Linked DNA regions of Homo sapiens: region 1 is linked to region 2. Evidence: fine-mapped expression QTL. A gene starts in region 2. The other region holds a variant in brackets. All regions are shown on one strand. Distances are from middle to middle. Region 1 holds the start of LOC105378482 (a long non-coding RNA gene). Region 2 holds the start of DUSP5-DT (DUSP5 divergent transcript).

Evidence for each region.
Region 1: its variant is fine-mapped to the expression of DUSP5-DT in whole blood (TOPMed, PIP above 0.99). The same link has a PIP of 0.9 or more in blood mononuclear cells and macrophages.

The regions. Positions count from the first base shown.
Region 1 is chr10:110,443,420-110,451,747 of GRCh38, reverse strand. It overlaps LOC105378482 (a long non-coding RNA gene), which reads left to right and starts at 4,312. Exons shown (of 4, transcript NR_188210.1): 1 at 4,312-4,653. It also overlaps the pseudogene HMGB3P5. The variant C/T (reference allele first, on the strand shown) is at 4,178.
Region 2 is chr10:110,493,278-110,501,605 of GRCh38, reverse strand. It overlaps DUSP5-DT (DUSP5 divergent transcript), which reads left to right and starts at 5,124. Exons shown (of 2, transcript NR_187547.1): 1 at 5,124-5,218. It overlaps DUSP5 (dual specificity phosphatase 5), which reads right to left and starts at 3,699. Exons shown (of 4, transcript NM_004419.4): 1 at 3,106-3,699. The coding sequence starts at 3,484. RefSeq lists silencers at 2,973-3,242, 3,363-3,422, 3,493-3,632, 3,643-4,172 and an enhancer at 4,654-5,177.

The DNA of each region.
Region 1 (8,328 bases), 50 kb after region 2:
AAAGGCAACTTCCCCACAGCCTCAACCCCAAGCAAAGAGCTTCAAGAGTTTGTCTTGGTCGTTTTGTTCTTTTTACAAACTATAGATATATACAGTTGATAACTTAGGTTTCCAGCCAATTACCATATAGTTAAGACCACCTTACAAATTAAAAAAAAAAAAATGCCAGAAACATCTTTAAATGCCTTGTCACACCAACCGCAAAGTGCACAGAGTGAGGAGAACATGAGAGTGCCTTTTCATTTTAAAAATGTTTGGAAATATGTACAACTTTGATACAGTTTCAGGGTGCTCTGGACACCCATGGCCACTTCATGTAAACCACCGACAATTTCTAGAGCACTTTGAGAGACTACAATATGATCGTGATCAAATTTTGTAATTAAACCTAATGAGGGCAACAGACACTTCTCAAATAAGAAATGTGTCAATTACGGCCCTCCCCTACTCTAAGGTATTCACAAGGAGACAGATAAACAGGTTTTTTTTTTTTTTTTTTTTTTTTAATTCATCCTCCTCCTTCTCCTCCTTTTCTCCCTCCTTGTCTTCTTCACCTTCCTCTTCCACCTTTTTCCGGGCAACTTCAGCAGGACACTTTGCACCATCAAACTTTCCTTTCGACTTAGAGTCGGCAACATCCTTATCATACTTCTCCTTCAGCTTTGCCGCCTGAGTGACGTAAGGCTGCTTTTCACTGTCATTTAAGTTACTCTACATCTCACTCAGCTTTTTTTTTTTTTTTTTTTTCTTCTGCATCACCAATAGAGATGCTAGGTTTTGTGGAATTGATCTTGGAGCGGAATTCTGAATAGAACAGGAAGAATCCAGACGGTGGCATTTTGGGGGCATTAGGATCCTTCTTCTTCCTGCCTCCCTTAGCTGGTCCATAATCCTTCTTTTCCTGATCATAGTGCACTTTATCCACCTTTGCCATTTCATCAAATTTAGACTTCTCTTTCCCATACATTGTCTTCCACCCCTCAGAGCACTTCTTGGAAAATTCTGCAAAATTGACAGGAACTTCTGGGTTTTTCTTTTTATGTTCTTCTCTGCACGTCTACACAAAAAGGCAGAAGCAGACATCTTGCTCTTTGGTTTTGTGGGGTCATCTTTAGCCATCCTGACTGTATTGTTCACTAGTCTCAATTTTGTTTAACTTTTTGAAAAACCGACTTTTTGTTTCATTGATCTTTTGTATTTTTTTATTTCAATTTTATTTATTTGTGTTCTGATCTTTATGATTTCTTTTCTTCTGCTAATTTTGGGTTTGGTTTGCTCTTGCTTTTATAGTCTTTGAAGCTGCATTGTTAGATTGTTCATTTGAAGCTTTTCCTCTTTTTCAATGTAGGCACTTTTAGCTATAAACTTCCCTCTTAGTATTGCTTTTGCTGTATCCCATAGGTTTTGTTATGTTGTTTTTCCATTATTATTTGTTTCAAGAAGTTTTTTCATTCCTTTTTTCTTTTTCTTTCTCTCTTTCCTTTCTTTCTTTTTTTCTTTTCTTTTCTTTTCTTTTCTTTTCTTTTCTTTTTTTTTTTTTTTTTTTTGAGATAGGGTCTGGCTCTGCCACCCAGGCTGGAGTGTGGTGGTGTGATCTCGACTCACTGCAACCTTAACATCCCACCTCAGCCCCCTGGGAATACAGGAGGAAATACAGGCATGTGCCATCACACCCAGCTAAGTTTTGTATTTTTTGTAGTGACAGGGTTTTGTCATGTTGCCCAGGCTGGTCTTGAACTCCTGAGCTCAAGGAATTGGCCCACGTAGGCCTCCCAGAGTGCTAGAATTACAGGTGTGAGCCACTACACCCGGCCCAATTTCCTTCTTAATTTCTTCATTGACCCACTGGTCATTCAGCAACAGATTGTTTAATTTCCATATATTGTATAGTTTCCAAAATTCCTTTTGTTATTAATTTCTAGTTTTATTCCATTGTGGTCAGAGTAGATGCTTGATATTATTTTAACTTTTTTGAATGCTTTAAGACTTATTTTGTGACCTAACATATGGTCTATCCTTGAGAATGATCCATGTGCTGAGGAAAAGAATGTATATTCTGCAGCTCTTGCATAAAATGTTCTGTAAATATCTCTTAGATCCATTTGGTCTATAGTGCAGATTAAGTCTGATTTTTCTTTGTTGATTTTCTGTCTGGAAGATCTGTCCAATGCTGAAAGTGGTGTTGAAGTCTCCAGCTATTATTGTATTGGGGTCTATCTCTGTTTTTAGCTCTAATAATATTTCCTTTATATGTTTAGGTGCTCCAGTGTTGGGTGCATATACATTTTAAATTGTTGTATCCTCTTGCTAAATTGACCCCTTTATCATTATATAGTGGTCTTCTTTGTCTCTTATAGTTTTTGTCTGATATAAGTATAGTGACTCCTGCTCTTTTTGGTTTCCATTGGCATGGAATATCTTTTTCCATCTCTTTATTTTCAGTCTGTCTGTGTCTTTATAGGTGAAGTGTGTTTCTTGCAGGCAGTAGATCAATGGGTCTTGTTTTTACATCCATTCCAGCAATCTGTGTCTTTTGATTGGAGAGTTTAGTCCATTTACATTCAGTGTTATTATTGAAAGTAGGGACTTACTCCTGCCATTTTGTTATTTGCTTTCTGGTTGTTTTCTGGTTTTCTCTTCTTTCTTTCCTTCCTGTCTTCTTCTACTGAAGATGATTTTCTCTGGTGATATGATTTAGTTTCTTACTTTTTATTTTTTGTGTATCCATTGCATGTTTCTTGGTTTGAGGTCACCATGAGGCTTGCAAATACTTTCTTGCATGATTTTTAACTTTGTTTCATCAGTTATATTTACATCTGTGAGAGCTACCACAAACTGAAGGTACTTTTTCATCAGAGTGGTTTGGTCAACCACCACGGCTCCTTGTGTTGCAACAAATGCCATTTTTCTTTTGAGCTGGTTTGTTTCTCGAGAAAAGTATCAGGTCCGTGAGTTCAGTCAGCCCCAACCTCAGTGGCCTGGCTCCCACAGCCCTATCCTGTGACTGCCTGCTGAGCCCTCACCTCTGTTGCTGCTCCACCTTGCACAGTCCCACCCCATACAAGAGTTCATTTCTTAAAAGGACATTGTCAGGATTAAATTAGTTTCTATATTTAAGTGTCTCAGAAAAGTGCCTGACACATAGAAATAGCTCAATACGGGTTAAATATTATCAATATTCTCCCACCCCTACTTAGGGTCTCTTCTGTACAAAGGATCTCATTGCAATATGAGTGAGGAGGTCAAACATCATTCGGTAATGTTCTGGTCTAGGACAAAATTTAGAACTGAGTAATTTTTGGCAAGTAGTTTAATATCTTTGAACCTCAACTATGTCTTCCATTAAAAACAGATTTCTAGTTACCTTTTAGGGTTCATGTGAGAGCTCAGTAAGAAAATGGTTGGTTAAGGCAGTTATGCCTACATTAAGCTATTTTGCCTACCACAATGGTAAAAATTATGTACACATTTTAAAGATTTGCATTAAGATTAAAACCAAAAAAGGGTTTCTGCAGCTCATCTCCACTTAAGTGGGAATTTCTGGGGACCAAGACCACTCTCATCCCTAGTCCCTATTTCCTGACCTCTCCAGATCTGCCCACATGGCCTCTTTGGCATCTTGACAAAAGCACTCATTGGGATGAGGTTCTTTGTTGCAGTTGCCTGTGGACACAGATGGTCTTTTCCAGCCAAAGAAAGACAGGAGAAGCGCAGGCCCATGTGTGGCTGCATTGGTTTGCAACAAACAAGATTCATTCATTTGGTCCTTCATGCATTCTTTTTCTTTTTTTTTCTTTTTTAAAATAAGACAGGGATCTCACTATGTTCCCCAGGCTGGTCTCCAACTCCTGGGCTCAAGTAATCCTCCTGCCTCAGTCTTTCAAAGTGCTGGGATTACAGGCGTGAGCTACTGACCCTGGCCATACTTTCTTTCATTCAATAAATATTTATCAGTGGCTTACTCTGTGCCAGGCATGTGTGAGGACCTACGGTTCAGAGGTGAACAAGGGAGATATGTCTCATGAAACTTACATTTTAATTGGGGTGGTGGGTGACAATGGTTGAGGAATCAAGTCATATCTTTGGAAACTGGTAAGTATTAAAAAGAAAAATAAAACAAGGCAATGCTGAGAGAGAGGCTCTAGAGATAGGGGAAGAGAAATGGCAACAAATTGGA[C/T]GGAGTGGTCAGGGAAGGCCTCAAAGAGGAAGTGACTCAGGCAGCATCTGCTGTGAGACAGGAATCTGGCTCTGCAGCAACATGGGAACACAGCATTCTTGGCACAGATGCCCTGGGATGGGAATGAGGAGGCCAGAGTGCCAGGAGCTTTGTGGAAGAGGCAGGCAGAAGCCGAATCTTGGGACCATCCTTTCTCACCTTGCATGGCCCAACAAGTCTGTGTAGGGCCTTTTCCAGGAAGGCAGAGCCTACCCCTAGCTGACTCTGTGTCCCTTCCTGTGGTTGCCTCACTGGTCCAGTCTCACTAGTCCCTCTGGCTCCCTCTGGCTACTTCCGGCTTCCTCTGGCAACAGACTACTGGGGGAGATAAGTGAGAATTGCAACATGCTCTCTCATTACCCTCAAGGAACTAGAAAGATAGAATCTCTACGGACCCCACAAGACGACTGATACTACAGACTAGACAAGAGCACCAGGTGAGGGCTGAGGGGAAGTTTTGGGAGGTGTGCATGACCACTGAGAATGGAGGGTGGAGGTGTCAGAGAAGTGAGAAGAGCTCAGCCTGGACAGAGGGTAAGAACGAGCTGGAGATGGGGTGTGGATGGCAGTCCACATAGGAGGAAGGTAGAGCAAAGGAGTCCTCATGGGAAGGAAAGGACTAGGCAATCATACTCAGATCAGTTTGTCTCGCCCTTGGGCTGAGCCACTAGAAATGGAAGAGAAGCTTGGAAAAGGCGAAGGAGACACTCAGCCTTGGGAAAGTAGTCAGCGAAGTGGCATGGAGCATTCTGGACACAAATGCCCAAAGACAGGAATGAGGACTCTGGAGCTACACTACTTGGGTTCAAATTTGAATTCTGTTGCTTACTAATGCTGGGACCTTGACAAGTTACTTAACCCTTCTGTGACTCAGTTTCTCCATCTGTAAAACAGTGATCATAACAGTACCAAATTCATTTTATAAAGTTTAAATGAGTGAATAGTTGCAAAGCACTTAGAATAAATAGTACCTGGCCCAGAATGATGTAAGTGTTGGCTAAATTAAATGAATGCTGGTGAGCAAGTGAGACTCTCATTCTGAAGCCAATGGGAAGCTCTCAGATGTTTCTGGGCTGTGCCATGCATGGAGGAAAAGAGTGCTCTGCTCTAATTCATCTGGTGCAGGCTGGATTGGAGGTGGACGGCCTGGGATCAGGAAAACAAGTTAGGAGTCTACTGCAATAGCCCAGACATGAACACTGATTGGCTGGTAGCAGGGCTGCTGGGGAGAATAGAGGGGATGGAAGGCTGGAGGTTGCTGCCGAAGGAAGTGCTCCTAACATCTGGTGTCTGGAGACGGGACTGGGGGTAGTGGGGTACAGATGGAGGAAATGGAGGCCTTGAGCTTGAGTGATGGGGCGAATGTGGGGCTATGTCAGAGAGGGAAGCTGGAAAAGTCATCTGGTTTGGAGGAAGATGGTGCCAACACATGGACGTGTGTTGCCTTTGAGGCCATGGTGTGCCCACAGTGTTCTGGGTGTGATTTCATATCCTGGGTCTGAGGAAAGGAATCCTAGGGGGTTGGATTCTGGCTCCTAGAGAGATGTGAGAACGAGAGTTTCAGCCCTGGCCTCTGCTCACCTGTACACCTGCACGTGTTTGGAGGAGGGTAGGTAGGCTGGGGACAGGCAGTAAATATTTAATGAGGCTGAGTCCACACATCCTCTGCATACTGTATTAAAAGGGCAGTCAGGAAAGGAAGACCCTGCTTGTGTCCACCACTCCCAGACACTCGGTAGTGACAGTGGTCAGTGCTCTCCTTACCCTCACCCCATTGCAGGGGAGAGGATCTCACAACTCAGCCCAAGGCTGACCACACTCCTCCGACTCTCACCTGGATAAGGGTCCCAGCTGGGGTCCAGGGACAGTGGTTGGGACCAATAGTATTTGACTACTGGTTTCTGTTAACAAGTGTTGACTGGGTACCTGCTTCGGGATCCAGTGAGCACAAAATGTCCACTAACCAATGGATTTTTTGAGCATCTCCTCTGTTCAAGCTCTGTATAAGGCACGGGGCTCAAAGTAAAATTAAATGCTTGGTTCCAGAAACCGCATTAGCCTAGGTTTTTGTTTTCCATTTTTAATTATTAATGACAGTAGCTTCAATATAGATATCAGAGGAATGTATCCTTCTAGTCATGAAAATCTTGTTTTAGCCTGGCTTTTAAGTATAATCATTCCCTCCAATCTTTCCTATAAAGGGTTGTTAATTATATGAATTAATATATCTGTAAAATTTTATTGGGATTAGGTCCATAGCTTTCATTAGCTTCGTAAGGTTTTTTTAAAATCATATTTTTCTTTTTTAGTTCAGAAAAGAGTCAAGAAGAAAATTAAAATGGCCCATAATCCTACTGTCCAGATAACCCCTTGTTTTCACTTTTTAAATGCATATGGAAAATAATTCATGTTCTAGAAAGACACAAAATGAGAAGCAAAATTCTCTCACTGCTCCCTCCCCACTTCCGTTTCTCTTCCTAAAGGTTTGTGCTACTAATGGTTTCTTATATATCCCTCTAGAAAATGCTTAGTGCACTTATCAGCATTATAAATGCATTATGTACATCCTATTCTTAAAAGCTTCTCCCGGAGGTTAAGAACTATTGCTCTCTCTAGGCATGATTGTCTGTTTTTATGCTTTTTGCCCTGTTGATCTGCATTTTAAAAAATAACAGAGGAAAGTCCTTTCTCTTTCTTTCTTTCTTTTTTTCTTTCCTTCCTTCCTTCTTCCTTTATTTTCCTTTTTTTTCTTTTTTTAGAGATGAGGTCTCACTCTGTCACCCAGGCATGCTGGAGTGAAGCAGTGCAGTCATAGCTCACTGCAGCCTCAACCTCCCAGGCACAAGCAATCCTCCCATCTCAGCCTCCAGAGTAGCTGGGACCACAGGCATGCACCACCATGCCTAGTTAATTTAAAAAAATTTTTTGTAGAGACGGTCTCACTGTGTTGCCCAGGCTGATCTCAAACTCCTGTACTCAAGTGATCCACCCGCCTTGGCCTCCTAAAGTGCTGGGAATACAGGCGTGAACCACCATGCCTGGTCAAGGAACTCATTTTCTAATGCTCCTCTGCCTTGGACTAGTGGACAGATGTCAGGAAGTTACTTTACCTTGCTGAGCCTCAGTTTCCTCATTCTTGTGGGGACTCAATGGCAGTGTCAATGCAGAAAGGCCTGGGCACACAATAGGCCTTCCATAAATGGTCAGTGCTTTCCCTTAGGCCCTTTTGGAAGGAGGAGGGGCTGCCAGTTCTAAATAAATGTTACAGAAGGGCCTGTCATCAGTTGCCCCTCAGAGTGACCTGTCACTTTGTTCCCAGCTATAAGAAGAAGAGTGTGGGAGTCCCCTGACTGGAGGTGACAGGGTCACACAAATTCCTCACCCTTGGTGTTGGCACCCACCCCAGGAGCTCAGGCAATCCAGACCCCAGGAGACTGATGCCATCTGTCCCTGGCTGGGAAGGAATCTCTGCCAACAGCTGAGACAGGCCTCTGATATATAGCCCCTGTCACCTCCCCCTCTTCTTTCTCTGAGCTGAGGCTTTAAGACCTGTGTGACTCCAGCTTCAGAGGGAAAATGGCTTACAGGAAAGGTCTCCAGTATCATCTGGGACCAGGGGCGGCTTGGCTATTGTCAAGCTGTGACCAGCCCCAGGAAGCCAGAAAGAAGGGCAGGACTCCAGTCCGAGGAGGTGGGGGCCGTGGTGATGGCAGATGAGGCAGAAGGTGGACGAAGACCATTTGTTGTGTGCTGGGAAGCACTGGCCACAGTGCTGGGTCCTTGGCAGGTGTTACTTGCTGGGACCTCCCAGCTGCACTCCCACTTTGTAGATGAGGACTCTGAGACTCAGAGAGGCAAGCCACCTTGCCTTTTGGGGAGGCAATGGCAGAATCAGGACTGGCATCACCTGCGTAGTCCAGCACTTATGTTTTACTACGTTGGCCACAGGTAGACGTGAGGGAGGGCACCAGACAGGACACCTAGGGTCTGGGCCACAAAGTGGCTGCCCACTCACAGGCACAGACACACTTCTCCCGGGGTCCACTTCTGCCAGTCCTGCTCTGTCTGTATTCTCAGAGTCTAGGACAGTGCCTGGCGCATAGTAGGTGCTC
Region 2 (8,328 bases):
CCATGAATTTTCCAAAGAACCCCCTTTTTCTTTTCTGACTTTGGGTGTTGTGATGCTGGCTTTTTTAAAGCCCTGCAGTAGACAAATGGTTAATGGATTACAAGGCAGTCTCCAACTCCCTCCCAGAAGCTGCAGCCAATTCCTAGAATGAGTCATCTTGCCATTACCGCTTCCTCTCAGCTCACTGGAACTGCCCCGCCCCCACTTAGTACACCCAGATCTCCCCTGTGGTCACCTCACAAGCAGCCCATTGCGCCTGCCCATGAGCTCCTGGTCCTCCTCAATGACCATGCTCCCCACGACAACGGGAGGCCACGGCAGAGGTGCAAGATGGTGCTATAGGCAGCTTAGCTTCCCATGCTCTGCCATAGCCCCTGGGCCCCTTCCCTTCCAGCAGTCAAGAGAGAATGAGGCAGGCTCACAATGACCCACAGCTTCCTTGGAAGAGGCATCCCTAGTCAGTAAACCACCTGATCACTTCCCGTGCCTGGACCTCGACATTATGGGTTCCAGGAGACAAACAAGGATTTGGATGGGAATTTGGAGTTCAGAATGACCTGGGCCCTCCCAAACTTCAGGACGAAGGTTGGGGAAATAGGAATCTTCAGGCTACCCCATCTTTTGGCTTTAAATATATTACTTCAGAGTTGGCTATCAGGAGGACAGATAAGAGGTTCGGGTGTGGGCTGGATCCTGCATGCTGTTGACAAAATTTAGTTGAGGGACAGATAAACAGGGTCCTGCCTCTTCAAGCTGGGATTCAGAGGAATCCTCCAGATTAAATGGTCTCAGTCTTTCACCCACTCCCATCAGAGGTGTGGAGAGACAGAACATTCCTCGCTGGTGCCTCACTCGAGTGGCAAAAGCCATGGCAATTCTTAGAGCTACTTCTTTTGGAGTGAGTCTGCTTTCAATCACCACCACATCACCAGGGAACAGAGAGAGCACAGATACTATATATAAATAAGCACTGACCACGCAATTCAGTCATCACCATTTCATTTTAGTGGTTGTTTGGGAGACAGGGGATTATGGAAAGTGTCAAAAGGCATTGCCCCCACCAAGATCTGAGATGCCACCAGATTAAAACCTGAACTCCTATCTGCACATGAATTACGTAAAGAAATAAAAATTTTCTCTGGCAACAATTTAAAGTTTAGTAGTGTTATAAGGGTAGGCATGAAGCAATTTCTACTGAAACTTAAAATGCATGTAATTCTTGACCTGGCAATTCTCATGATTTACTGAAAGGCACTGCACACGCAAGAGCACATGGAGAAGGACATCTACCGCATTGCTTGGAGCAGTGAGGCGGGACGCAACCTAATGGTCATTACAGGAGACCGGTTCAATGTGAAACAGACATGTATGATCAGATATGGACAAGTCTCCAAGATCTAGATAGATACAAGAGGCAGGACAGGGACTATACAAAATCAATCTATTTCTAAGATACTTATGAAAAACTATCTAAAGGTAAACAAAAAATAGTTGACGACTGTCTCTGGGGAGTGGAACTGGGTTCTAAGATATGCAGAAGACCCGCTTCTCATCACAGGGCCTTCATGCTGTTCAAATTTTTACCTGTGTATATGTTACCTTCTTTTAAAAAACATTTTAACCCAGTTTTCCTGAGATGTGAGTCTATAGAGCTGCCTACTTTGTGGCGACAACTTCTAAACTGTCAGCAGGGCCAGCTTAGAGAAGCATGGGGAGGAGAGGTGGGACCAGGGAGGGTCTCCTGGAACCTCTTTCATACTACTGAGGCAGAAACTTCTCCAAACCACAGGAGATAAAAACCATATTAGGAAGAGAAAGAAATCAGGAGGCACGCTGAAACCTCTGCAGAGCCAGAGGGCCAACCCTCTATCCCCTGGGGGATAGGCTGTTAGAAGAAGGACGATTACCATCTACCTCTGTTAACTCTCCAACAGGAAATCAACAGGGGACCAGTCAGCAGGAGGTGCTAGCAGAGAGGGGAACTGTCTCCAGAATCTTCCTGGCCCGGACTGTGTGAAACTCAAGTTGCATGGCTTTAAAACAGGCTCCTAACTCGGCGCCGGCTCTCTGCACCGAGCTCTGATCCCCAACACTGTTACATCCCAAGGTGTCCGCGCCAGGGCTGGCACGGCCTTGGGGCCCTGCTGGGGCTAAACCCTCATCTCTACATGTGGGTCAGGTCTCCCCGGGTGTCATTTGAGGTTACAAAGGACTCAAACACAAAGCAGGAGCAGTCATAGGAAGTAACCCAGAAAAAACCAATGCTTTGGATTTTGAGAGTCAATCACCCACCCACCACCAGAAGCCAAAGTTATCTTCCCGGCAGGTGAAATGGGCAGGCCTGTGGCGGTAGCTCCGGGAGGTGTCAAATCAAAGGCCGCAGAATCTCCATACCACCCTGCCCCCGCGCACCTCTATTTCGTGGCTGGCTGGCTGTAGGCTCAGCTCAGGATGGGTCCCAGGGATAATCCTGGGGCGGAGGAAGGAGGAGGTGAAAAGGGTGGAAAGGATGTGAGCTCCAAACTGAGCTAGAGAAAAGACCTAGGAGGGGAGAAGAGGCCGGAGGGAAACAATAAAAAGCAATAAAATGAAATGGAAAGGGAAGGGACTCGCCAGGTCAAAAAGGCAAGGGGGTCGGTGAAGACCACAGCTGGCTAGGCGGGAGGAAGGGGGGCACCACGGCGCCACACCAAGGGAGAGTGGATCGCGACCTGCTGATCCCGCCAGATCAGTCTATCAGGAAGGCCCCGAGCCCTGACCCCAGCGACAGCGGCGAAGCTCGCGTCTGGAAAGGGGGCTCGTGCCCGGCACGAGCCGACGGCCCCCAAACTGCTAAACAGCAGCAGCCCCCGCAGCATAACCAACTCCACCCAGACCACCGGGCAGACCCGCTGCCGGGCGCTTTCGAGGAACGCGGGTGGGGAAGAGGGGGAGCTCTGAGTGCTGACATTTGCAGTGCCCTCCCAAGCGCACAACAAGCCACAGGGTGCAGACTCCTGCAGGTGGTGACTCTCCCGGTCCCAGGGTGTAGGAGGGCGCCCCGGCGCAGGGAGGGGACCCGGGGGCGCCGGAGGGGCGAGCGTGGCAGGGACCCCGAGCGCTCACCTTTGAGGAAGTAGACCCGCGGGCCGGCGGGTAGGCAAGCGAGTAGCGAGGTGAGGACGACACGCGCGGCGCTCTCCTCTCGCAGCTTCTGCCAGTGGCGGCTGCCCTGGTCCAGCACCACCACGGCCGCGACGCCGCCGCCGCCCTCCTGCAGGAGCCGCGCGCGCGCCGCCTCGTCGGGCAGCACGTAGCGCGCCGACACCGCGCCGCCCCGGGCCCGCCGCAGCACCACCGAGTTGAGGTTGACGTTGAGCGAGCCGCGCACGTTCGAGGCAGCGAAGGCCAGATAGGGCCGGCAGTCGAGCACCACGCAGCGCGCCGCCGCCTCCTTGCGGAGCATCTTGCGCAGCTGGCGCCCGTCGAGCGACGTGACCTTCATGCCGCCGCCGCCGCCGGCCAGCGGCCCCGCGCCGCGCGCCCCGCGGGTGCCCACGGCCAGGGTGTCCACGGCCAGGGTGTCCGCGGGCGAGGCACGGGAGGGCGACCCGCGGGGCTGCGGCCGCGACGGAGCCCGGCGCCCGAGCGGCGGCGCAACTCCGCGTTCCCGCCCCGCTCGCTCGATAGCCAGCCCGGCCGCTCGCCGCCCTAGAAGCCGGGGATTCCGCCGGCCGCGCAGCGTTTTATGTGAATGAGTGCCGTCCGTGACGCGGCTGCCCATATAAGGCCAAATATGGGTGTTTCCCCGCCCCTCGGGCCGTGGCCACGCCCTGCAGGGGGCGGGGCAGCGGGGGCGAGGGACGCGCGGGGCGGGTGCCGGCGTTAGAGCGAGAGGAAGTGGAAGGCGCCTCTTCGTTCTCTCTTCCGCGCTTCGCTGAGGGACTCACTCGCGCATCACCCGCGGCTGCCGGTCGAGTGTCCCAGGCGCTCCGGGGCCGCGGTGACCCTCGCGGTGCGGACCGAGGAGGAAGCGCCGTGGGGGGCGGGGCGGCGCCGCACGATCCGGCCTTCAGCTTCACGGACGTGGGCTGAGAACCCGCCCGCGCCGCGCTGAGCAGGGCCGAGGGAGCCGGCCAGGGCCCCAGAGGAGTCCGGAACGGATTCCCGTCGCTACCGAGGTCTGCGCGTGTAAGGAGAGGACGTCGGAGATTTGCCTCGAGGGGTGGGGTATAGATGACTGGAGAGGTCAGGCGCGGGTTGGTCATCGCTGAGGCTGGGTGATGGGTGGCCGGATTCGTTATACTGTTTTCTCCACTTTTCTGTATGTTTGATATTTTTCATAATAAAGTTTGTAAAAGTAAAAACGGGGGTTGGGGGTCGGCGGTGAGAATAGCCATTTAATCTTCCTAAATGGATTCTGCCCTCAAAGGATTGACGCTCTTTTCTCTGTCACTCTCCAATAATGATTAGAATAATAAGTTGTATTTTGAGGAGCTGTTTTCTGGTCCCGGGGAGACCCTTGGTGAACTCAGCAGTACCATCAGCATGTATCCCACGATGGAGCTCAGTTCAGCCAACTGTTGTCCAGGTGGCTTCTGGATTTGGGGGATTATCTATGGATCAAGTTTAATCTCAGGCTGTCTGCCCCCACCGGTCCCCAGGGGCTTCAGGCCTCCCACCCCTATTCCTGGGGAAGCAGACACAATTCACCCATTCAGCAAGCATTTATTGAGGGTCAGCCGTGTGCCAGGGCTTTGCTAGCTGCGGGGACACATGGATGGAAACAGGTTTCTGCCCCCAAGCTCACTGCCAACCATTTTATTGTTAGCCTGGCTGGGACTGCTTGATGGAAAACAGTCTGCCCGCACTAGACAAGGGCTTGTTGACAACTGACATAAGGGAATGAGGTTTTCAGAAGGAAGCAGAGATCAAATTTTGAAATCAGATGCAATCAAATCAGACACCAGGACAGCCAGCATTGCCTCTGGGTCACAGATGCATCCACCCAAAGGCGCTGTCCTCGCCTTGCCAGTGGGGTCTTGGTGAAGACGTGATGCGGGGGCCTTCTTTCTTTTTGTGGTTATCTGTGCCAGCCTTCCCTGCAGGCTGCTCTTCCTCTAGCACGTTCTGTTTCTGTTACCGGCTCTTTCCACCCCCGGCATCTCCGCCTAGAGCCACACACATACGCGGAGCACCCACGTGGGCCAGGCTTTGTTTTGGGGCTGGCGGCACCAACGTGAGTAAGACTTATACTCAGCCCCAGCTGCCCCCAGCCCAGAGGGAAGGGGAAGGCCTGTAGTCCGTGGGGAAGAGCGCCCAGTAGGGGTGTGGCAGGGTGGGGCGTGGGCTGGAGAAGGCCTCCCGAGGAGAGGAGAGCTGAGGCCAACTCCGAGGAATGAATTGTAAGCCAGGCTGCGAAGCAGGAGGGGAGATTCCAGGCAGAGGAAACTGCTTGGGGTAAAGAAAACAAAAAACGCAACCCCCCCAGCATGGTGCGTACTGGAGGTATGTGGGAGACTAAGGCCCTTCTGGTATTTATTAGCAGATTAAGCAGGGTCAGGCAACAGAGGGCCTTGTGCTGTTTTGAGTCATTTGGGTCTTAGTCTTTGGCCGGGCAGTCCCCAACGAGGGATCTTACTCAGTGACAAGATCCGGATAGCATTTGGGAACATCGCTGAGGCGGCTCTGTGCGGGATCGGTGCTTTATTTGAGAGTGGTGGTGGGGTCCGGAGTCTGGGGGATGGATGGGAGGATTTCATGGGTAATCTAGACATGAGCTGATATGGACTTGCCAGAACTTGGCAGTGACAGCAGCTATGGGGAGGCCATAGGAATGGGAGCACATTGAGGAAGTGAGATGCTGGGAGGGGTGAGATGGGGAGAGAGAACTGGAGAGGGACACCAAAGATTTTTTTGTTTCCGGATTTTTTTTTTTTAGATAGGTTCTCGGGCCGGGCGCGGTGGCTCACGCCTGTAATCCTAGCACTTTGGGAGGCGGAGGCAGGCGGATCACCTGAGGTCGGGAGTTCGAGACCAGCCTGACCAACATGGAGAAACCCCGTCTCTACTAACAATACAAAAAAATTAGCCGAGCATGGTGGCGCATGCCTATAATCTCAGCTACTTGGGAGGCTGAGGCAGGAGAATCGCTTGAACCTGGGAGGCGGAGGTTGCAGTGAGCCGAGATCGCGCCATTGCACTCCAGCCTGGGCAACAAAAGCGAAACTCGGTCTCAAAAAAAAAAAGCTTGTTCTCACTATGTCGGCCAGGGTGGGCTCAAACTCCTGGCCTCAAGTAATCCTCCCACCTCAGCCTCCTAAAGTGCTGGGATTGAGCCACCACACCCGGTTAGCATTTTTCTTTTCTTTTTCTTTTTTTAGGACAGAGTCTCGCTCTGTCGCCCAGGCGGGAGTGCAGTGGCGTGATCTCGGCTCCCAGGTTCAAGCAATTCTTCTGCCTCAACCTCCTGAGTAGCTGGGATTGCAGGCACACACCACTACGCCCAGCTAATTTTTGTATTTTTAGTAGAGACGGGGTTTCACCATGTTGATCAGGCTGGTCTCGAACTCCTGACCTTGTGCTCCGCCCACCTTGGCCTCCCAAAGTGCTGGGATTACAGGTATGACCCATGAGCCACTACCCCTGGCCAACACCATAGTTTTTAACCTTTAGATAGGGACTCTACAGGAGCAGGTCTGGGGTGAGGGTAGCAGGAAAAGGAGGAGTGGGTGAAGTTTATTCATATTAATAAGCTAGAGTTGGTCACACCAAGGAAGGTGCCCAGAAAGCAGAAGGGTGGCATGGCACCCGGTGTAGGAGGGTCATCTGTCAGCTGGATTGCTTCCTCACATCCCATATCCAACAGATTACTAAGTCCTGGGACCCTGCTTCCCAGAGCTCTCATCTGACTCATCCTGTCTTGTCCCATGGCCAAGGCCAGCTTTGCAGGTATGTGACCTGTGCAGCCAAACGGGGCCCCGTACTTAGAAGGGACCCCCACTTGTTTTAATGCTCTGTTGTTACTAAATTGTTAATAATTTTGTGCAAGAGACCCTGCATTTTCCTTTCCCACTGGACCCCACAAACTCTGTAGGTGGTCCTGCCTATCGCTGTAGTTAAAGGGCCCCATTATCCCCCATCCCCACTGGACCCTACATTAGCATCCTGTATCCCAGTCTCAAAGCCCCCTCCTTGCTCTCTCATCCTCTGCAGTGTGGTCTTAAGCTTACGTCTAAGCACAGAGCCCACCTCCTCTGCTCAAAAATTTTCAATGCCACCTACGCACTGTCTTGATAAAATCCAAATTCCTTAGTGAACACTAAGGTCCTCGGTCTGGCCAATTGGCCACAACCCACCTCTAACGTTTCTCACCTTCCTTCTCATCACCCCTCCGCACACCGCCCCCATTCTTTGTAAAGCAATCCTTCTCCACCTTCATACAGCTCTGGAGCTACTGTCGCACATTCAGGATGCCACCACTTAATCCCCCAGCCTGTTAGCCGTCACCCTCCTAGGGGTTCTCACTTCCCTTCCCCACTAGCCTGGTCCGTGAGTGTTATCTGTCCTGCCATTAACCTGCAGTCTCCCAGGCTAGACTTAGGGGCCTTATCCGACCATCTGTGTCTCCTTCACAACACCCTCACATGGTGAGGGCTGAATCAGTGTTGGTGGAATGGAATTCAGTGCTTGCTGAGACATGAGAGTGGCCAGCTTTTTAGGAGGCACCTGGGGAGAAAGTTGGTAACAGCACAAATCAGGGCCCTAGACACTGGATAAAAGGCGAAACAGAAAACTGGAGGTGCACAGTCCATAGATTCAGGACCTGGAGTCCATCGGCCACAGGTCTAGGAGGAAGAGGAGAGTGTCTGAGACTGGAAGGGCTTAATGGAGCAACTAATCTCTTGCCTGTGTCCCAAATACTTTGGAATGAGTGTGAGAATTGGCTCAGGGAAAAAAGCAAAATCTAAATTAATATTGTGAGTCCATGAGGCAGGACCTTGTCCTATTCATTAATCTTGCCCCTCAACAGTTATTTTCAGAGGGGCAAGAAGTGTTTCAGGGTTCTTGGCCCTTGTTTGACCAGTCGTCCTAACCCTCATGTCTTGGGTCATTGTTGTTATAATCTGGGGTTACCTTTTGGAAGGTCATGGGGTACCCTTTTGCAAAAGTTATGGGCCCTCTCCTTGGAAACTGCACACACACCATGCAGCTTACAATTCAGGGAGTTCACAGGTCTACAGAATCCTGGAAACTCTCATGTCCGGTTCTACTCATTGTAGCTTCAGTGGAACCTTCTAGCAGTCCTTTCCAGCTCCTCCCCAGCTCCTCAGCTCTGCTTCCCTCCGC